4 linked regions of the Homo sapiens genome follow. The gene in region 3 interacts genetically with the main gene of each other region. Each region holds a gene or a part of one and is shown on either strand. Other genes may lie near its edges. The genes, in order: SEC24A, VPS45, MAN2A1 and ARL5A.

Region 1 (5,787 bases), about 25 Mb from region 3:
GGTGCGATCATGGCTCACTGCAGCCTCAGTCTCCTGGGCTCAAGCAGTCCTCCCACCTCAGCCTCCTGAGTAGCTGGGACCATAGCCACGTGTCACCATGCCCAGCTTTTTGTTTTTGTTTTTGTTTTTTGAGACTGAGTCTCGCTCTGTTGCTTAGGCTGGAGTGCAGTGGCAGTATCTCGGTTCACTGCAGCCTCTGCCTCCTGGGTTCAAGTGATTCTCCCACTTAAGCCTCCCAGTTAGCTGGTATTAGAGGCACCCGCCACCACACCCTGCTGATTTTTGTATTTTTAGTAGAGACAGGGTTTCACCATGTTGGCCAGGCTGTCCTCTAACTCCTGACCTCAAGTGATCTGCCCGCCTCGGCCTCCCAAAGTGCTGGGATTATAGGCATGAGCCACCATGCCCAGGCCCTGGCTAATTTTTGTATTTTTTGTAGAGGCAGGGTTTCACCATGTTACCCAGGCTGGTCTTGAATTCCTGGGCTCAAGCGATCTGCCCATTTTGCCTCCCAAAGTGCTGGGATAATAGGCATGTGCCATAACATCTGGCTCTATTATTTAACATTTTTTATTTCTATGCATTAGATTTTTTGTTAAGTTTTTCTTCTGTCAGAATTGGGATCATGGATTTATTATTATTATGTTTTGACTATAGAGTACTTTTAGGATTTTTTTTTTTTGAGACAGGGTCTCTGTCACCCAGGCTCAAGTGCAGTAGCACTGTTATAGCTCACTGTAGCCTCAAACTCCTGGGCTCGTGCGATCTTCTACCTCACCCTCCCTGAGTAGCAGGGACTATAGGCATATGGTACCATGCCAGGCTAGTTTTTTTATTTTTGTAGAGATGGGGGGGTGGGTCTCAATATATTGCCTGGGCTGGTCTCGAACCCTTGGCTTGAAGAGATCCCTCCTGCCTTGGTTCCCCGATTTGCTGGGATTACAGGTGTGAACCATCTCACACGGCCCATTTAGGATTTTTTTTTTTTTTTTTTTTCTGAGATGGATTCTTGCTGTGTCGCCCAGATTGGAGTGCAGTTGTGTGATCTTGGCTCACTGCAACCTCCAACTCCCTGGTTCAAGCGATTCTCCTGCCTCAGCTTCCCGAGTAGCTGGGATTACAGGCACGTGCCACCACGCCCAGTTAATTTTTGTATTTTTAGTAGAGATAGGGTTTAACCACGTTGGCCAGGATAGTCTCGATCTCCTGACCTTGTGATCCACCTACCTCGGCCTCCCAAAGTGCTGGGATTACAGGTATGAGCCACCTCGCCCTGCCAGGATGTTATAATTAAAGTTGTTTTGAATTAAAATTTTAGTCTGAATACAAAATTTAGTACATGATATGAAAGTAAATTAACTGTTCTTTTGTTTTGTTGTTTTTGTTTTTGTTTTTGTTTTTGTTTTTGAGACAGTTTCCCTCTGTCGTCCAGGCTGGAGTGCAGTGGGCACAATCTCGGCTCACCTCCACCTCCTGGATTCAAGCAGTTCTACCACCTCAGCCTCTCAAGTAGCTGGAACTACAGGCACATGCCACCACATCTGGGTAATTTTTGTACTTTTTAGTAGTGATGGGATTTCACTGTGTTGGCCAGGCTGGTCTCCAACTCCTGACCTCAAAGTGATCCACCCACCTCAGCCTCCCAAAGTGCTGGGATTACAGGCATGAGTCACCACACCCAGCCGACATGAAAGTAAATTAACTGTGCAAACTAGTTTTTGTGTCTACTACTATAGTATAAAATATTAACTAGTGTAAATCCATTAACAAGATTTTTGGCCGGGCACGGTGGCTCATGGCCTGTAATCCTATCTTCGGGAGGCCAAGGCAGGCAGATCACCTGAGGTCAGGAGTTTGAGACCAGTCTGACCAACGTAGTAAAACCCCATCTCTACTAAAAATACAAAAATTAGGTGGTGTGGTGGCACACACCTGTAGTCCCAGCTACTCGAGAGGCTGAAGCAGGAAAATCGCTTGAACCCGGGAGGTAGAGGTTGCAGTGAGCCAAGGTTGTGTCACTGCATTCCAGCCTGGGCGACAGAGTGAGACTCCATCTCGAAAAATAAAATGATAAATAAAATAAAATAAATAGATTTTAGTCATTGCTATTTGTTACTGGTGTTTGTCTTATTTTAAAAATTTGATAAATGAAAGTATTAAATTATCCAAAGAATTTTGGAGTTATAATACCTATAACTTATTAGATTTATGTGTTGATTTAAAGCATTCTGGGCCAGGCATGGTGGCCTACGCCTGTAATCCCAGCCTGGACAACATGGTGAAGTCCCGTCTCTACAAAACATACAAAAACATTAGCCGGGCATGATGGCACACACCAGTCATTCCAGCTACTTGGGAGGCTGACACAGGAGGATCACTTGAACCTAGGAGGTTAAGGCTGCAGTGAGGTGTGATTGCACCACTGCACTGCAGCCTGGGCAATAGTGAGACCCTTTCTCCAAAAAAAATGTTTTTTTAAAATAAATAAATCAAGTATTCTGGAGTATAAAATAGAACTTAAAAGTTACCTTGTTTCTAGCAACACCACAGCTTACTAACAAGAATCCCAAAATGAGCCGAAGTGTTGGATATTCATATCCCTCCTTACCACCTGGTTATCAGAACACAACACCACCTGGTGCAACTGGAGTACCACCCTCTTCCTTGAATTACCCAAGTGGGCCACAAGCCTTTACTCAGGTAAACTTTTTGGGATTTTCTTTAACCTATTTCTCCATTTGGTTTAAACTGTATACACATGAAGAAAGTTTTAGGAAGGTATATTATACATTTTTATAACCATTTAGAATAATAATGGATATTTCATAAAGCCTTTGTCTTTATACATTTTTCCAGAACCAAAAGATTGGCCAAGAGATCTAGATTACACTTTTGTTATTTACAGAGAAATTAACCACTTCCCTACACACTTAATAAAAGTTACTTACTTTAAAATTATGTATCTGTAGACTCCCTTAGGTGCTAATCATTTAACCACAAGCATGAGTGGATTAAGTCTACAACCAGAGGGTCTAAGAGTTGTCAATCTTCTTCAAGAAAGAAACATGCTTCCGTCAACACCTTTGAAGCCTCCAGTTCCAAATTTGCATGAAGACATCCAGAAACTCAACTGTAACCCAGAGTAAGGCTTCAGATGTGACATTATGCATGTCCGAAAAGTTTTCTAGCTTTTTGCAGGGGGCACATCAGGTGTTATGAATAAGCTGTACAAATTATTAATTTATGAAAGTTCTGGATACAGATGATAGAACTCTTTTACTTGTTTACTTAATAGAGATTTGAAAAGTCCTACGTCAAGAAATAGGGATGTAACTCCTGAAGTGATTTTGTTCTTATCAGCTCTAATGAGATTATGATATTCATTATCATTATGGTGGTTACTTTCTTTCTTCAAAATCCAAAGTACAGGGATTTGTTTCTACATAATCCTTTATTTGCTCTCATTTAAAATTAATTTCATAACAAACATAATACCTTTTTTTCCTAAAAACTTACCATAAGCTTAAATGTATATGATCAATAATTTCTGATAAATTAAATTTGGTACCTTTAAATTGTATTTAGAATCTTCAGCAAAACTGAACTTTTAAATAATAGACTTTGCAATTTGGGCCATCACCTAAGTTTAATTTAATTCCAGTGTCAACTAGACTTACAAAACAAAAAATAAGTCATTTGATAGTTTAGACTGTTTTACACACAAGCCAAAAAGAGACTATATTTTAGTTATAGGATAACCATCCACTCTATTTCTGCATAGGACTTAGATTTAAATATTTAAATGGGATAAAATTTTGAGACTCTATTGAAATATTTCATCTGTAATCTGATCCAGTATTAAAATGTATACCTTTTAAATCTTTGTTGTTGTTTTCTTCAAAAATAATCATAGCAGCAACTGATACATACTTTTTACTTTGATATAGGTTATTTCGATGCACGCTGACTAGCATTCCTCAGACGCAGGCCTTATTGAATAAAGCCAAACTTCCTTTGGGGCTGCTGCTTCATCCTTTCAAAGACTTAGTGGTATGTTTCTTTTCTTTTCTTTTTTTTTTTTTGAGACGGAGTCTCCCTCTGTCGCCCAGGCTGGAGTGCAGTGACGCAGTCTCAGCTTATTGCAACCTCTGCCCTCCATGTTCAAGTGATTTTCCTGCCTCAGCCTCCCTAGTAGCTGGGATTACAGGTGCCTGCCACCGTGCCTGGCTAATTTTTGTATTTTTAGTAGAGAGGGGGTTTCACCATCTTGGCCAGGCTGGTCTTGAACTCCTGACCTCGTGATCCACCTGCCTTGGCCTCCCAAAGTGCTGGAATTACAGGCGTGAGCCTCTGCGCCCGGCTCTTTTTTTTTTTTTTTTTTTTTTTCTGAGACTGGGTCTCACTGTCGCCCAGGCTGGAGTGTAGTGGCGAGATCTCGGCTCACCGCAATCTCCGCCTCCCAGGTTCGGGCAATTCTCTTGCCTCAGCTTCCTAAGTAGCTGGCATTATAGGCATCTGCCACCACACCCAGCTAATTTTTTTATTTTTAGTAGAGATGGTGTTTCACCATGTTGGCCAGACTGGTCTCGAACTGACCTCAAGTGATCTGCCCACCTCCCAAAGTGCTGGGATTTATAGGCCTGAGCCACTACACCCGGCCTCTTTAGTGAAGGTAAATGTCTTTTGTGCAAAATTATCTTGGTGATGAAAATTTTCTGCAATGATGCAAGAATTACATATAGAATTTGTTTGATCTGTCTTTAGGAAGTCGATGATTGACAGATTACTTACAATTCAACCAAAAATTTTATTACTAAACACTTTCAAATACTAGGTAAAGTAAGTATATTGCTGGAAAATTCAAAAAGTACTGAATAGAATAGAGGTACTGAGAGAAACTAAATAAATGAATCATACTATTTTAATAGGTTGTGAATTATTTACCCATTAAAGTACTTTACCCTAGTCTCCCCGTTCTGCCATCCTTGCAGTAAAATTTGTTATTTTAAAAAGTTGTTTTAAGCCAGACATGGTGGCTCATGGCCTGTAATCCCAGCACTTTTGGAGGCCAAGGTGGGAGAATTGCTTGGGTCTATGAGTTCAAGACCAGCTTAGTCCTGGCTACTCGGGAGGCTAAGGTGGGAGGATCACTTGAGCCCAGGAGGTTGAGGCTGCAGTGAGACATGATTGTACTACTGCACTCCAGCCTGGGTGGCAGAGTGAGACCCTGTATCCAAAAAGAAAAGTTATTTCAGAAGAAAAAAGAAACTGATCTACCTTTGTCCTAAAGCTCTGTGGCCACATACTCTTGAGGATTGCTGACTTTCCCAAAACACACTACTTTTGGTGATAGGATTTTTTTGGTGGTGATATAATTTTATTGCCTGTATTGATTTTTTTTTTTTTTTTTAAGAAGCAGAGTCTTAACTGCATTGCCCAGGATTGGGTATGAGATCCTTATCTTAAAAAAAAAAAATAAAGGCCAGGTGCAGTGGCTCACACCTGTAATCCTAGCACTTTGGGAGGCTGAGGCGGGCAGATCACCTGAGGTCAGGAATTCAAGACCAGCCTGGCCAACGTGGTGAAACTCGTCTCTACCAGAAATAGAAAATTTAGCCAAGCATGGTGATGCACACCTATAATCCCAGCTACTGGGGAGGCTGAGGCAAGGGAATCGCTTGAACCCGGGAGGTGGAGGTTGCAGTGAGCCAAGATCCCACACTGTACTCCAGTCTGGGCAATAGAGTGAGACTGTCTCAAAAAAAAAAAAAAAGATAAATAAAACCT
Region 2 (5,787 bases), on a different chromosome or scaffold from region 3:
CAGGGATTTTCAGGAGATAAGAACAATATCTGACTGAAAGAATACAGGCTTCGAGATGTTGAAGAATGGCTGGATGTTGGAGATGGCTTTTGAGTGTTTTTTTTTTTTTTTGAGACAAGAGTTTCGCTCTCGTTGCCCAGGCTGGAGGACAGTGGCATGATCTCGGTTCACTGCAACCTCTGCCTCCCAGGTTCAAGTGATTCTCCTGCCTCAGCATCCTGAGTAGCTGGGATTACAGGCATCTGCCACCACGTCCAGCTAATTTTTTGTATTTTTAGTAGAGACAGGGTTTCATCATGTTGGCCAGGCTGGTCTCAAACTCAGGACCTCAGGTGATCTACCCACCTCGACCTCCCAAAGTGCTGGGATTATAGGTGTGAGTCACCGCGCCCGGCTCTTCTTTTTTTTATTCTTTGCTATTATTCATATAAATCATTTTATTTATTTATTTATTTATTTTTGGAGACGGAGTCTTGCTCTGTCGCCCTGGCTGGAGTGCAGTGGCATGATCTCAGCTTACTGCAACCTTCGCCTCCTGGGTTCAAATGATTCTCCTGCCTCAGCCTCCCAAGTAGCTGGGACTACAGGTGTGTGCAACCACACCCGGCTAATTTTTTTGTAGTTTTAGTAGAGACGGGGCTTCACCATGTTGGCCAGGTTAGTCTTGAACTCTTGACCTCAGGTGATCCAGCCACCTTGGCCTCCCAAAGTGCTGGGATTACAGGCGTGAGCGACCGTGCCCGGCCAGATTGAGTGGTTTTAACAGCAGTATTTTGATAGGTGAAGATGGGAAGAGAAGGTATTCCAAACATTCTAGAGTTTAGAAAGCAGTCACAGTAAAAGCATGCTGGCAGGAAACCATGTGGCATTATCTATGTAAGTGGTGAACTCTAGGTTTTATAAGAGGTTTAGCCCACATTGTGAAGGCTCTTGGATGCCAAGTTCAGGAGTTTCTTTTTAACCTAGTAGGCAAATGGGAACCAATGAAGTTTTTTAAGCCAAGAGTAATAAGATAGAGCTGTGCTTTAGGAAATTGTACTTGTGGAACATTTGGAGTGAGAAGAAATAAAAAGTAGGGAACGAAGTAGATGACTATTTCAATATTCTTGCAAGAGATTAGGATCTAGACCAAGGCAATGGCTGTAAGCATGGAAATGAGGAGACAGAAGGAAACACAGGGAAATAGAATCTACAGAATTAAGAAGCTGTCTTGATTAGGGGTGGAGGTACTGGCAGAAAGGTACAGGAGAGATGAAGCAGAAGAGTTATGATGACAGTGGATGGAAGAATCATGATACCAAAACACCAGGAAATACAAAGCAAAACCAAGAATAGCTAAAAATAAGGAGGCAAATAAATGGACCATGTTTTTACTTCCCTATCTGTATTTTGATGAATATCACTTAAAATTATCCTTCTATTATGCCAAGAAAGGGTTTTGTACCTGGTTTAGCAATGGGGTGATGGCATCATCACAGCGATCTAAAATAAGGAGCAATGGAGGAACCTCTGTCCGACGGAATTCAAACAGTTCATATTCTTTAGTTATCACTTGCTGTGGGTGAGAGAGAAAGATGGTTTGTGCAACCATCTAGTTACATATAGAAATGATATAAATAGGAAATTAATAAACACTACATTTAACAATAGTTCTTTGCACCCACATAGATCTTCCATATGAAGGATTCAAAAGTCTCACAAAGTTTAGTAGCATACTATTTAAGAGGTTAGGATATGAAACCCTATTTTATAAGTGGTTTAACTGGACCAAAAAAAGTTAAATAGCTTGTGAATGTTTCTTGGGTTAAACCTAAGAATCTTAGCTCTAATTGTTGCTTTTTGTTTTAAATTACATATACCTACCTCTTTTCGCGGAAACCTAACATACAATCATCTCCTTGGTTGTAAATAAACTATTCCTTTAGTTTCTGAAATATGATAGAGAAATGAATGGCCTTTATGTTTTGGAACCAGGAATAGGTAATGCCATACCTTAACGCACTCTGCAAGTCTCTTTGCTGCCTCTGATGAGAGCTGATAACGAATCATGGGACACTTCTTCAGAGATAAAAGGAGAGCTGTAAGCCCTTGAGTTGTTCTAGATAGCTGGGCTGGATCCCAATTTCGACCCTTTTTGTTAAAAACATATATTCAGAGAAAATATTTGAATTTTCTCTTACAAGTCTAATTATTTGCTGAATTAACTCTCGACTGATAAATTAAACCTTTCCTTCCATACCTGGCAGCAACCCAAAATATTGAGGGAAAACAAATGTGGGTTCACAGCAATGTAATCACCATAAAATTCCTGCAAATAAAGCACCAAGAATAGTCATTCCATAAACTTCAATTGTATCAAGCAGTAATATTTTCATAAGTGATATAATATGATATAGCCAAACTTTGTGAAATACAGGTGTAAAGAGATACTAAATTGTTCAATTAATAATTGGGTAACAACAGTCAACGTGGGAGAATTAAAATAATTACAAAACAGTAGCAATAATAATAAATCTAACAAATAAAGGTTGTAAGGTTATACACATTATATTTCTGGAGACCTCTATGCATACTTATCAATTAGTAAAAATAAAATACTGCTAATAGGAGATACAATGTTCTACTCAGATAAAAAAGAACTTTGCTGTCCAATGTGTTGTCATGAGAGAGAATATAATTTAAAACAGGTATTCTTTTTATTCATTTATCACCTATCACATCCTTCTGAAAAATTCAAAACTAGTTTATTTGCTGCCTCTGAAAACAATATTCCTCATTTATGTGATAAACATATTCAAGTATTCATAATAAAACTTCTTTTGAGACAGACCTTTCCTTATTTTTTATTTTTAGACTCAAATATTTAAAAAGGGCCAACATACGAGATGTGTTACAGGACCAATATGTTTACCTGAACCTCAGCCACAACTTCCTGTTCATCAGCTTCAGCCAATGACTTCACGTCACTCTTGCTGATCACATTACTGAAATCTGAAACACATGAGTTGGGGTTGACTCAAAGGAGATAATTTCTGCTGCAATATATGTAAAAGGGCCTGATAGTTAAAGCCTAATGAATAAGTGACCTTCAAATTGGAATGGGTAGCAAAAATATATTTAATCCACAAATTCATAATTTTATATATATATATATATATATTTTAAAAGGACTGGCCAGGCGCGGTGGCTCACACCTGTAATCCCAGCACTTTGGGAGGCTGAGGCAGGTGGATCATGAGGTCAGGAGATCGAGACCATCCTGGCTAACACGGTGAAACCCCGTCTCTACTAAAAATACAAAAAAAAATTAGCTGGGCGTGGTGGCGGACGCCTGTAGTCCCAGCTACTCGGGAGGCTGAGACAGGAGAATGGCATGAACCCAGGAGGCAGAGCTTGCAGTGAGCCCAGATCAGGCCACTGCACTCCAGCCTGGGCGATAGAGGAAGACTCCATCGGAGGAATTGGAGAATGAGAATACTAGGGAAGTAAGTCATTTTATTGAAAATAAGGAGAAAGAAGTAAACTTTCATGCTGTCTTTTATATATAAACTGTACTACCAGGTAACCAAATAGATGAGGGAAAATTTTTCTTTGTGAAAACATTCCAGCTCAACAATAACTAACAAATGTTAATGACAGAATTAGAATATCATCATTTTTTCTAACCCCCAATGAATCAATTGAATGGACCCAGGCATTGAGCATCAGCAGCTACTAATATCAAAAGAATAAGCAGCCAATGAAAGCACACAATACCACCTATAAAGTATTCTTGCCAAGAAGAAATCAAATCTTAACCTAATTAAGGCTCTGTATTCACCTATGAATTTACAGGAACTAGAAGACAGAGGAATATTTTAAACTTCAAGGAACATGTTAAACTACCCCCTGGGGATGCAATCAGCAAGATCCAGTCTGTGGAAAACTTAACAGTTTCTTCAATAAATAAATTGCATGGGGCAGCAGGGGCAGGGGTGGGAGGACCTATACAGAAGATTAAGAAACTTAACATATCAACCAACAGCAATGTGTGAACCTTACTTTGATCCTGATTTTAAAAAACTGTAAAAAAAAAAAAAAAAAAAGACAATTTTAAATTTGAACGCTGAATGGTTATTTGAAAATGGTACTAAGAGTTCAAGACCAGCCTGGGCAACATCACTTGAACCTGGGAAGTTGAGGTTACAGTGAGCCGAGATCATGCCACTGCACTCTGTCTGGGTGACAGAGGGAGACTGTGTCTCAAAAAAAAAAAAAAAAAAAAAAAAGAATAAATAATTATTTTTCACTTTTAATCTAGATGTAATAATGGAAATGTGTTTTTTAAAAAAATGAGTCCTTATCTTTTAGAGATGCCTACTGAAATACTTATGGATAAAATTATATAATGTCTTAGATTTGCTTTAAAATAATATTGCTGGAGAAGTAGGTGACAGTATAGCTAAAACAAGATTGGGTGAGGCTCAATAATTGTTGAAACCAGCTGATAGGTACATTGGAACTTATGATACTATTCTACTTTTGTATGTCTTTAAAAGTTCGGTGCGGTGGCTCACACCTGTAATCCCATCACTTTGGGAGGCCAAGGTGGGCAGATCACACATGGAATTACCATATGACTCAGCAGTTGCACTCCTGGGGGTTATTTACCCCAGAGAATGAAGACTTAATGTTCACATAAAAATCTGTACACAGATATTTATAGCAGCTTTATTTGTAATAGCCAAAACTGGAAATAACTCATATGTCCTTCAATGGTGTATAGTTAAACAAACTGTGGTACATTCATACCATGGAATACTACTCAGCAATAAAAAGAAATGAACTATTTTTAAATTAAGAAAACTTTTTTTTTTGCAGTTCCAGCTCAAAGGAGGAATGAACTATTAATACACACAACAGGTGAGGTGTGGTGGCTCATGCCTGTAATCCCAGTACTTCGGGAGGCTGAAGCGGGCGTATCACCCAAGGTCAGGAGTTTGAGACCAGTCTGGACAACCAACACGGTGAAACCCTGTCTCTACTAAAAAAAAATACAAAAATTAGCTGGGCGTGGTGGTGTGTACCTGTAATCCTAGCTACTCGGGAGGCTGAGGTGGGAGAATCGCTTGAACCCGGGAGGTGGAGGTTGCAGTGAGTTGAGATGGCGACACTGCACTCCAGCCTGGGTGACAAAGCAAGACTGCTTCTCGGACAAAAAAAAAAAACAAAAACAACACACACACACACACAGAACAGCCTGGATGACTCTCCAGAGAATTATGCTGAGTGAAAAAAGCCAGTCCCAAAAGATTATATGCTGTATGATTTCATTTATAGAACATTCTTCGAATGACAAAATATAAAATGGAGAAAATATTAGTGGTTACCAGGGTTAATGAGGGGGTTGGGGTGGGACAGAAGTCCATATAAGCTAATAAAAGGGATCCTTATAGAGATGAAAATGTTGTGTATCCTGACTGTATCAGTGTTAACATCTTGGTTGTGATATTGTACTATCATCATGTAAGATACTACACAGGGGGAAGCTGGGTAAAGGGTATCTGGGATCTCTGTATTATTATTCGTTGTTTTTTTTTTAACTGCACATGAATCTACAATTACTTCAAAATAGAAAGTTTAATTTTAAAAAGAAAACCTGTGACTATTAGCCAAAAACAAACAGACAAAAACAAACAAAAATTAAGTTGCCACAGATTAATAAAATTGCCTATTTTTACCTCTTGGGGCGTCGTGCACTGAAAACCCACTGGACAAGCTTTATGTAACTTTTCAATTCTACACAGA
Region 3 (5,787 bases):
GGAAAGGAGGCTGAAGTTTTGAGAAAGTGCATTTTTCAGATGGGGAGATTCAAACTAATTTGCAGACTGATGAAACTGAGACAGTAAAGAAGCAATGAAACATGATCTTATTGTCAAGATCCTTTGCAGAAAGAGGATTTCAAAGCACACTAACAGTAAGCAAAAATAACCTTTTCAACTTACCTTTCCCTGAGTAGTAGAACAAAACAGCCCTGTGCCTTTGCTAGAGAACCGACAATCAAACCCTTTTCTGTGGAGGATCAAGGCTGCCTCATTGGAGTGCCCATTGCCCACCTGCAAATGAGCAGAATGCAGTCACACCGCGCAGACAATAAAGCAAATATTTATGGTACTTCACACACCACTCTCTCGATGTCAGCATCCAAAAGCACATTTATTTAGCAAGAAAGTTAGGCAAATTCATTTCTCCTCAGGTCCATGCTCACTGCCCATTCACCTGCTACCATTCTCTCCTACTTGTACTGAGCCAGGTAAGATTATGTTCTAAGGTTCCTTGTTAGGTAACCTCATGCCTTGGTTTCCCCTATAATCCCCGAGGACTTAGGTTTCCTTATGTCCATACATTATATATTGTTTTATTAAAGTTTATTCAAATAAAGCATTATGTTTTCGTCTTATTTTTCAAACACACACATCAGTTGAATAAACTGCACCTGAACTTAGTCCTTATCTGGTCATTGAATGACATACCATCTAACTTAAAAGTCACACATGCTTCTTTATTGAACATTAATTTTTGCTAACTGCATTCTTAATCTTTGATGTACTGATTCATTATTTTTATATCAGAGCTATTTAAATTTAGTTATGCTTTCACTTGGTAGGCCAGCTCACATTTACCAGCTTGATGTATCATTTAAATTGATACTGCAGAAGCTATTGTTGATAGGCAGGCAAAAATAAAAATACTAAACATGACAAGTCAGCTAAGAGGGTCAGTATACCTTTTCTTGCAATAAAATTTCTCATATCCATTTAAGTATCAATGTCATGAATGGTTTAGGCCTCTGAATATTTTAAAATACAATTATCTTAATAAATTTTGTTTCCTAAAGTTGGAAGGTGTTTATGATAAATGAATTAAAAATCCCTGGAAAAATTAAGAAACATACAGTTTTTGAAAAGAGTCATGTGCTGCTCAGCACTGACATTGTGATAAAACTGATTCTTTCCTCTGTTCTCTGGCCACAGACAGGAATATGCCCAAACGCCTGATCATCCTCACTAGGGGATAAGATTTTTTAATGTACTAAAGAGACATCTTTCCTGAATAGCTGCCAGAATCTCCACCACTGATTTGATTTTAATGTGCCTGAACAGTTTAAAGCTGTCCTCACCTCAGAGTCTTGGCTGGAATAACCTATGTTATGATGTTTCACACTGATATTTTGTAGGGGTACTGCTAAGATTTTGTTTGAAGGAAGAGAAGAGTCATTTAAGGAATTCTGAGTCATCACAAGACCACATGATACACACAGCAATTTTAAATCATATGATAAAAATTTCTAATTCATTTCAATACATTTAAAACACCCTGCCCATGTACTATAAAAATAACACATAGGAAAACCCTTCATTTATGGTATCATTAGATCTCCAAAAGAATAAGAAACAGGACTCTATCATGTGCCAACTGTGAAACCTTAGGATAGTAATTTCTTCTTCCTAAATATCTATTTTCTTGCCTGTAAAATGGAGGTAATGCTTGTATTATTTCCTTCATGGAGTCACTGTGTGGATTAACCTGTTGAAAATACTATGTAAGTAGCTTCACACTGCCTTGTAGGGCAGAATGCGCTAGTGCACGAGCTGTGTAGTAAGAGTGGTTCAGAGCCTGAGTGGGGAGTCAGACAGCTGGAGATCTGGATCCTTGCTCTGCAATTTACTAGCTGTGGGTTTCAGCAAAACCAGGTTTTCCTTTTCCATAAAATGAAGATGAAATGAAATGAAATAGCTTAACAAAGATCTGGCCAAATGTCTGGCACACAGGAAGCCCTTAGCATAAATTTCCTTTATTTGACATTACAACTTTGTAGCTAAAGACTCAGGGAACTCCTAAATTATATGTCTAGAGTCGTACATCAAAGTCATAACAAAGTCTGGATTCAGATTAACAGATTAGAAACCCTCTTCATTAAGCTCTTTTAAAAGCACATATCACTACTAACCTAAAGCATTTGTCCATTTTAACTCATGGGTCCATCCTTACATATCACTTGATAGCATGCATGGCTAAAATTCCTGCAACACATTTGCTCTTGGAATAATGAATATGTAAGGCCTTTATAGCAACAGAAGGGGACAAAAAATGTGGGGAGGGAAACACCTTTGGAATTCTACATTTGAATTCTACAAGAGATTTAAACCGACAATACAAAAATAGAGATAAAAGTCATAAAAATTAACTTTCACTGATAGAAAAAGTTATACTTTCTCTCAAAACTAAAATTACATCACTTTTGTAAAAACGAACTGAAATAGCAATCATCTTGTCCAAGTTTTTAAAAAATCAAATATTCATGAAAGTATCAGTTTTCAAGCAAAAATACCTGAGGCAAAGCAGCAGTTTTTCAGTTTCAAAGTCTGTCTAGACATTTTATTTCCAAGAAAACTGTTTTTCAAAGTAGGGAAACTGTGAATTTAACTTGAATATGCATGCAGGAAAACAGATACCTTCAAGCAGTCACACTGTATGCTCTAGGAGAGTAAACAGATTTTGGAAGAACTGCTTTTACATTCATTAATGCATTAGTAATATCTGGACCCCATAAAATGGGAGGATGTGGGGAAGAAAATTTACAATTTTTGAAATTGTGCCAAGCACTGTGGTAGGTAACTATCTTTGTAAAACAGATTAGATCACTTTCGAGGCTGAATTACTGAAGTAAGGCTGGCGTATTCTAAAGTTGCACAGAGAAAACCCATTGCAAACTTAATTCAGGGGATAAAACCAACATTCAGCTCATAGACTAAGCTGGGCCTCTGAGGCTCTTCCAGCAACTTGGTGGAGTATGGGGAAAGATGATTTGGTTTGCAGAATGAAGCCATCAGATAAAGCTGGGCTTAGAGAAAGCTGGATCAGACCAATGATTTTTTCTACCATGAACCATTTATGTGACTTTGAGTAAACCTCTATAAATTCAGCAAGCTAAGCTGGACCTGTGAAGAGTCCCTCTGAAGACTGAGGGTCAACCGCAGTGACAATATCAGTCATTGCTAATACCTGTTGAGCACTTGCTGTGTGCCATATCCTGTACAGAATGCTTTTCATCAATTAACTCATTTTATCGCACAACAACCTTTGAAATAGTTGAGGTGATATATAAGTTTGTATTAAAATATGTAAATATACGAGAAAATCTCTATCACAAAGCATTCTCTCTTATACTCAAATAGCAATGACCACCAGTGATCCTGGATTAGCCCTTAGTCTTCTCCCGCCAATGGATGGGATATCCTCTGTAGGTGTCCTATTATTACTGAAGACACAAGAAAAATAGACAGTGTATTCCCTCACATTTTCAGTGCTCCCTCTCCCTTCTTGTTCCCATGCAAGACAGTATAAGGTTCTGAGAAGCCATCTGGACTCAGACACACCTGAGCGTGCTCCCAGGACCACATTACTGGCTGTGTGCCCTTGACAGTTATCTATCATATCTCTAGGTCAGTTACTTTCCTATTCTGTAAGATGGGATGAAAATATTGCCTACCTTCTTAGGGTTGTTGTGAGAGCTTTAAATAAAGTTCATGTAAAGCACTTGGCACAATGCCTGGCAAACAGACAATTTTAGATATGTTATTTTTAAATATCTGAGGAATTATTAACAAAGTATTAAGTTGGTGCAAAAGTAATTGTAGCTTTGCCATTACTTTTAATAGCAAAAACTGCAATTACTTTTGTACCAACCTAAAATATCAGGAATAAGTCAAAGTGACATCAAGATTTACTCTGGCAATGTTTTTACCTCATTATTAGTGACAACTGCCGTTGTTCATGACTGAACTATCACAGGTGAGAACCTTTACTTGTCAAGCACTCATAGGGCTTACTATGTGCCACATGCTGTTCTAAGTGCTTTACTAACACTAAAATTATCTCCAATCCTCAGAACATCTCTAAGGTGAGTATTATTACCATCTCCATGTTACTAAGGAGTAGCCTGACACTCAGAGAGTTAAGTGACTTGCTCTAAGTCTCATGGTTAGAAAGCAAAGGAGACATGCTCATACCCAGGACATCTGACTCCAAAGTTTAAGCTTTTAACAGCTTCCTTCTCCTACCTTTGCACTAGCTATGAATTTGTGCTCATAGATACCTAGCCAGGAGAGAAAAGATAAAAAATATTTTTGATGTAAAATAACAAAATACTGTAAACTAAAGGAGGTAACCCCTCCAATTTATGGCTGAAAAAGGAGAGTATTGACTGATGGTTCCAGCAGAGATAAAACTATAACTTATCAAAAAATATATCAATTCAGAAACCAAGCTTTGGAAATTGTAATTTCCTTCCATCTACCACCTATCCACCTATCCATTCACCCCACTTCAAATAGGATTTGAGCCATTCTGAAAATTATACACACATGACAGTCTCTTTTAAGGAAAAAAGCAGGTGAATAGTCCTCTACTGAAGATCTTAAGATGTGAGTTATGTCATTCCTCTCTCGCACCAAAAGAAACAGTAAACTTTTGGAAACTGTAGTAAACATTATGTGTGCAACCACCGTTTGTGGGGAAGAGAGGGGCCATAACTTTGGCCAAATTCTCCAGGATGCATGGGACCCCACCCTCTTCACACGGTTAGTAAGGTGCACATAGATTAAGGCACGGCTACACATCTGGTGGGAAAATTTCTCCAACCCACTCAGATTCTTTGAAAATACCTAACACTCATCCCTAGTGCATTCTGGCAGCTGGAAAGGTTAGAAAATTACATGCTTCATTATAAGTCCTAAGATGGTATTATAACCAGTAGAAATTCATTTTTTAGGGTGCTCATTAAAATGTCCAATAATAGCTATCCTGTTTTGATCAACAAGATAAAATGACAGAAAGAAAGGGAAGGTAAATGGCTGTTCTGAGATACGTACAACAAAGGAATTTTTTTTTCTCACAATTTTCACCTTTCCAGAAGCTAGGGAGATCAATAAAGCACCAATCAATTCTTATAAGAAAGACAAATAAAGTAAAATCCTCAAACTGCCTTTTATAAGAAAAGAAGAGGCAGAATGAACAAGTGGAGAGAGAAAATCTTATTCAGTAAGTGGTGCTGATATTGAAATGATGGTTAACTATTTGCAAGAAACAGTTAAACACAAATCAAAATAAATTACATAGAGAAAGAGTTAAGATATATATATATATCATGTTTATATAAAATAAATATGTCTAAATATAAAAGCTGTGGAAATAATCTAAAAAAAAAAAAAAAAGCTGAACTACATATCACATTTCTAAAGTATTCCAAGTAGAATGGCTCCATGAAGCTGAGCTTATCCAGCTTCCTCTTTGTCCCTCTATTCCAGGCTGAACCAGCAGCTCCAGCTTCAGAAGCCTGACTCATCATCTGTCCTCCCATGAGATCCTCCCTGCATCTTCTCTACCCAATCTCCCTTCTTCTTAAATAATGGTCCTTTCCTGATGACAAGGCTTTTGCATGTAGTGTATTTCAGTGGTGTTCATGTTCCCTAGGTTTCAAACCTTTACAGAAGCTTCTTTTTAGTATCTCAAGATCTTCATAGTGTAGGGGAAAGGTGTGATCAAGG
Region 4 (5,787 bases), on a different chromosome or scaffold from region 3:
TATCACCACTTTCTATTTTGAGTCAATGATAAAATTATTTGTTTCTGTAAGTTAAGAATAAATGAGAACTTTGCCAACAGCTCCTTGGAGTAGTAAATAATAAGGGTGTGTGCTCTGGTATCACTACAAATTGCTAATAGTAGTGTTTTTATAACCTGTATTTTGTGGTAATTTTTGACGGGACATTTATGGCAGTTTGGCGGAAATTAATAGAGAAATTAATGAAGTTAAGTTCTAGAAAATTAGATATGAATATTGTGAAAGTGTGAATAAATTATTTATTTTCTGCTAAACAGTGTGGCTGTCTTATCAATAGGGTCACTTTTCCGAATATCCACCATTTAATCTAATGCCAGATATTTGTTGGGTTTTGTTTTTGTTTTTGTTTTTTTGAGATGGAGTCTTGCTCTGTCACCAGGCTGGAGTGCAGTGGTGTGATCTTGGCCCACTGCAACCTGTGCCTCCTGGGTTCAAGCGATTCTCCTGCCTCAGCCTCCCGAGTGGCTGGACTACAGGTGCGTGCCACCACACCCAGCTAATTTTTGTATTTTTTGTAGAGATGGGGTTTCACCACGTTGGCCAGAATGGTCACCATCTCTTGACTTCGTGATCCACCCGCCTTGGGCTCCCAAAGTGCTGGGATTACAGGCCTGAGCCATGGTGCCCAGCAGGGTTGTTTTTTTTTTTTTCTGTATAGGACATATATAAGTTAGATATGTGTTGGATGCTCTTGTTTTACCTTCAGTGGATTCAGAATGCAATCTTACTTTCTTTTCATAGAAACTCTTGGAAAGTATGTTTCGGGAGATTACAGAATTTGCCATCTGATGAAACTTAAACTATGCAGTATCTCCTGTTTCTGAAACCCCTCGAGAACAGCTTTTTCAGTTAAAGCTCAGATTGAGTGCACAGTGAAAGCTATTTGTATACCGCTCGAACTAGAAAAACCAGAGGTCACATTTAGTTGATACTGAGATTCAGTAGAGTACAAACTTTATCCTAGATGCTGTCATTTAAATCATTTTATTTTATTTTATTTTATGTTTTAACAATCTTTTGAAGTAGTTATTTCCCCTGAAAAGGGAAAACTGAGGCTTAAGTGGAATGATTTTTTTTCCCCAGGCCATGCAACTGGTATATGCCAGAGCCAGGCAAGTTAAAACCCTGAAGGAATCTCTTAAAGAAGAGATTGACATCATTTTTCCCTCCCTCCTCCTCCCCCCATTAACTTTTTCAGTTGCTAATCTCTAAGTTGTCTTTAGAACTTCGAAAAGTTGCCATTAGTAACTTTTTTTTATAGAAGAGCTTGTGATCAGTGGTTTACTTGTTCTCAATAAACAAATATTTTAACACCTATTTAGTCCAGGAAGTGTTCTACATGGTGGGATAAGGGAACAAAACAGACAAATTCCACTGCCTTTATGGAGCTTTCATGTAGTGTTGGGAGACAGGAAATTAACTCACTTTGTCTCTACAAGTAAAATAATAGTGGTTAACACTTGTGCAAGGTTCACACAGGTTGTTTGATTTAATATTCACTTAGTTGATTTACTCTTTACAACAACCCTACAAGGTAGATATTATTCCCCTTATTTTACAGGGGTACGGAAACAGGTAACTTGCTTTAAGCACTATAGGTAAAAGTGATAGACCTGGATTTTAACCACGATTACGTAGTGCCGGAGTTATTTCTCCTACGCACACACACCTGGATTTTAACAAGATTATCTAGTGCCAGAGTTAGTTCTACACACACATGCACGCACGCACATTTGCACACAACTTCGTGTAAGAAGGACTTTGTATAAGAAGGACTCAGATAAAAAGAACTGACTGATGTGAACTATAAAAGAAGTTGTGGAATTTCCTCATTAATAGCCTTGTATTGCTCTCTTGGTTGGTTGCTAGAAAAGGAATTATAAGTATGAATGGGTGCAGGAGAAGCTGCCTGTGCTTCAGGAACCTGATGCTGAGGAAGCCACCTCTGTTTCTGGCTTATTATTGTTGTTATTATTATTATTATTATTATTATTAGGGAGTTTAAATGTGTAGAGAAGAGTACATATGGAAGCTGAGTAGCCAAGGGGTAGACTGTGTCTTAGCTTCTAATACAGATGCTCCTCAATTTGTGATAGTTGATAATTTGTGATAGATAGATAATTGAAAATACAGTAAGTAAAAAATGAGTTTAATATGCCAGACTTACTGAAAACCATGGCTTTAGCCTAGCTTGCTTTATACGTGCTCAGAACATTTATGTTAGTTTACAGGTTGGCAAAATCTAACCCAAAGCCTATTTTATAATAAAGGTTGAATATCTCGTGTAATTTATTGAATACTGTACTGAAAGTGAAAAACAGAATCTTTGCATGGGTACTCGAAGTATGGTTTCTACTGAATGTGTGTTGCTTTTACAACATCACAAGTCAGAGACCATTTGTAAACCCTTTTTGCATGCTCTGTGGAAGTGGAGCTAGGTCCTTTAAACGTTTTTCTTTTGCCACTGGGCAAAATGTTAAGTTTTGTCAGTAGGCTGCACTGGAGAGGCATTGTAGGAGGAAAGGGTGTTTGTACTTAGTTATAGTGTGCTTTCTTGACGGGCTCTGCTTGTAGCATGAACACCGTCTCCAAGGCCTGGCTCTTGTACTGCATAGTGGTCAGCAGCAGCCAACAGCTTCCCCTAGTACCCGTCTTAGTTGGTTTCATAATGGAAGGTCTCCAGTGAAATACCTCTCAATAAACAGTTTTCCTCAGCACCGAAGAGGGAGGATTTTTGGGCAGGTTCCACTGGCACCTCACCACAGCTACTTCTCTGCCATTCAGTGAGCCACTATCTGTGCCCTCCAACGAGATCTGCATCTTAAGTCTGGAGGGAGGGGGAGGACCTTTATCTCAACCCTAGGGATAGTGAGTGCTTCTTAAATTTGACATTCCCATAATCTTTTAGCCAATCTCTCATTACTCCAGTCCCCTGTAATATTTTTTTGATGTTGAACTTTCCAAGTTCAAATTATTGTGTGATTTCTGCCTCCTGATTGGATCTCTAATTTTGCCATGTGTAATCATTGCTTTTTTTTTTCAGCAACCTCATAGTGCAAAAGAAAATTTGGTTATTCCCCTGAAACTTAATTTACCATTACTGTAATAGCAAGTTTATTTTCAAACTTTCTTTTTATTGTTAAGACTTTTAAGTTTTAAAAATTGAACTTTTAATACAAAACGACTTAAGCAGATATCTCTCTCCTAACCTTTATATTTTCCAGATCTGATTTATTTATTCATGAAAAATATTAAGCTCATGCTTTATTCCAGGAGCTGTCCTATGGACTAAGAGAACTATAGTGAATATGACAAATGGAATTTTTTGCTCTGAGAGACATAGAATTAATAGGGCTTAGTGATAGTTCAGATATGAGGTAAAAATGATGAATCAAGAGGACTCTCCATTTATTTGCCCTGGTGTTTTTGTGTTTTCTGATGTTGTATGATTCACAGAGATAGTAATTCTCTACAATAACAATTATTATTATGCTTAATTTATTGACTGATGAGTTGGGGGAATATATATTAACTTTTAAAAACTGGCAATGAATGGAACTGGTAGACTGCCTGTGTCAAAAGGAAATGAAGGAAAAGGGAAACAAGAAGCAATTTTCATGACAAAACAGTAAAGTATTGATTGGTATGTTAAAGCCTAATTGGTAACTCACAGTTCCATCAAAGCATTAGAACAGTGCAGTTGTTGTGGCTTATTTGAGTAAATACAGGAATGCTGTGACATAGTCTAAAAGAAAAATCATACTAAGCAGTAAACTTCTGATGATTCTTGTGCATCAAAGAGTTGGAATGGCTGAAAGTTTTATTGCATTTGTCCACAATAACATTCTTGTAGTAGGCATATTGGGATTCTATGAAGTCTTTATTTCGAAGTGCATTATAGCACTTTTTGGCTACAAATTTACATTTTGTATAGATGCTTTTCCATCTTGCTAATGAAAGGAACAGGCTGTGGTGGTGAGAGTAAGGATGTTCAGAGGAAATTGATCTACTATTAAAAACTTTGTGACTAATCTGACCCTATTATTGAGATGACACGTTTGTCTTTGAGCCCATTGCACAGTTTGGTCTTAATTTTATAGTTCTCATTGTGACCCACATGCTATGTCTTAGATTTAGGAAGCTATTAAAAATGGTCATTGGTGGCCGGGACGCAGTGGCTCATGCCTGTAATCCCAGCACTTTGGGAGGCCAAGGCAGATGGATCACCTGAGGTCAGGAGTTCAAGACCAGCTTGGCCAACATGGCAAAACCCCTATCTCTACTAAAAATACAAAAATTAGGCCAGGCACAGTAAACTTCTGATGATTCACGTGCAGGTGGTTCACACCTGTAATCCCAGCACTTTGGCAGGCCGAGGCAGGTGGATCATGAGGTCAGGAGTTCAAGACCAGCCTGGCCAATATGGTGAAATCCTGTCTCTACTAAAAATACAAAAATTAGCTGGGCGTGGTGGTGCGCACCTGTAGTTCCAGCTACTCGGGAGGCTGAGGCAGGAGAATCCCTTGAACCTGGGAGGCAGAGGTTGCAGTGAGCCGAGATCATGCCATTGCACTCCAGCCTGGGCGACAGGGCGAGACTCCATCTCTAAATAAATAAATATAAATAAATTAAAAAATTAGCTGGGCATACGGCGAGACTCCGTCTCAAAAAAAAAAAAAAAAAAGAAAAAAAAAAAAAGAAAGCCGGGCATGGTAGTGCCTGCCTGTAGTCCCAGCTGCTTGAGAGGCTGAGGCAGGAGGAGAATCGTTTGAACCTGGGAGGTAGAGGTTTCATTGAGCCAAGCTCACACCACTGCACTCTAGCCTGGGCAACAGCGAGACTGCGTCTCAAAAAAGTCATTGGTGCTTTATTGTGAAAATACAAAAAAACTCAAATAGAGCTACGTCTTGGGAGGAAGCAACTAGAACTTTGTAATGAATGTAGTTTGTAGGTGTTTGGGTGGAGTAAGGAGGTAAAGATCCTCTGGATCATGGATTCTTCATTGGAATGGCCCTCCAGAGATCTCAGACCACATGACTACATGTGGTTTTTTTGGATATTTTCCAGGTTCTGCTTATGTTTGATTGGAGTTTCTTTCCTCCTTTTTGTTTTTGAAGTATTTTAACCATTTGGTAAGAATATGATATGTTCAAATATATTAGTTTGGTTTCCCTTGATTGACTTTAGAAATCTGCTTAGGTCTTAAGAGTTTGGGGGCATGGTTGCATATTTATGCATTTGTAAGTATATAGGAATTCATTGAATTTGTAAAATAGGTAGGCAGAAGAGTAAGATTGTAGTGTGGAGAATGGCATGAGCAAAGTTAAATGATTGGAAAGTTTATGACATGTTCTAGAGACTGAGTAGAGCAGCTTTTCTAAGTTTTAGTACGTAGGTCAAGAAGAGTTAGGGGAAGATTTGGGCTAAGGCTTAGCTAGCTTTGTCACACTCATCCTTTTTCATCATGTTTATCTAATGATCTTACCTGGATTTAGTTATTCACTTTCAGGTGCAGACAGAAGGTTATGGGTCCTCCAAAGCTTCAGACCTTGGCTAATTTCTCTCCTCTTGTTCATAGCCATTTTACCTTTCATCTTTCCTTCTACCCTAACAATAACCTAACCTTTCACCTGCTAGGACTTCCGGACATTCTTAACCTTGTAGGGCAGGACTGGATTTCTTTCCCGGCCCAAATTCCATGGCTAGCCACTTCATTTCTTTCTTATCACTGTCTCCGACACGCTTTTC

What was found.
Region 1: changes in MAN2A1 (region 3) and SEC24A together harm fitness more than expected from each alone (negative genetic interaction), as found in Homo sapiens cells (one large-scale study listed by BioGRID).
Region 2: changes in MAN2A1 (region 3) and VPS45 together harm fitness less than expected from each alone (positive genetic interaction), as found in Homo sapiens cells (one large-scale study listed by BioGRID).
Region 4: changes in MAN2A1 (region 3) and ARL5A together harm fitness more than expected from each alone (negative genetic interaction), as found in Homo sapiens cells (one large-scale study listed by BioGRID).

Annotation. Positions count from the first base shown.
Region 1 is NC_000005.10:134,672,076-134,677,862, forward strand, and holds part of SEC24A (protein transport protein Sec24A), read left to right. Parts: intron 1-2,539; coding exon 2,540-2,700; intron 2,701-2,969; coding exon 2,970-3,142; intron 3,143-3,947; coding exon 3,948-4,050; intron 4,051-5,787. UniProt on the Homo sapiens protein: Component of the coat protein complex II (COPII) which promotes the formation of transport vesicles from the endoplasmic reticulum (ER).
Region 2 is NC_000001.11:150,073,437-150,079,223, reverse strand, and holds part of VPS45 (vacuolar protein sorting-associated protein 45), read right to left. Parts: intron 2,992-5,787; coding exon 2,912-2,991; intron 2,309-2,911; coding exon 2,240-2,308; intron 2,131-2,239; coding exon 1,993-2,130; intron 1,556-1,992; coding exon 1,445-1,555; intron 1-1,444. UniProt on the Homo sapiens protein: May play a role in vesicle-mediated protein trafficking from the Golgi stack through the trans-Golgi network.
Region 3 is NC_000005.10:109,859,543-109,865,329, reverse strand, and holds part of MAN2A1 (alpha-mannosidase 2), read right to left. Parts: intron 295-5,787; coding exon 184-294; intron 1-183. UniProt on the Homo sapiens protein: Catalyzes the first committed step in the biosynthesis of complex N-glycans. It controls conversion of high mannose to complex N-glycans; the final hydrolytic step in the N-glycan maturation pathway.
Region 4 is NC_000002.12:151,820,726-151,826,512, reverse strand, and holds part of ARL5A (ADP-ribosylation factor-like protein 5A), read left to right. Parts: intron 1-5,787. UniProt on the Homo sapiens protein: Lacks ADP-ribosylation enhancing activity.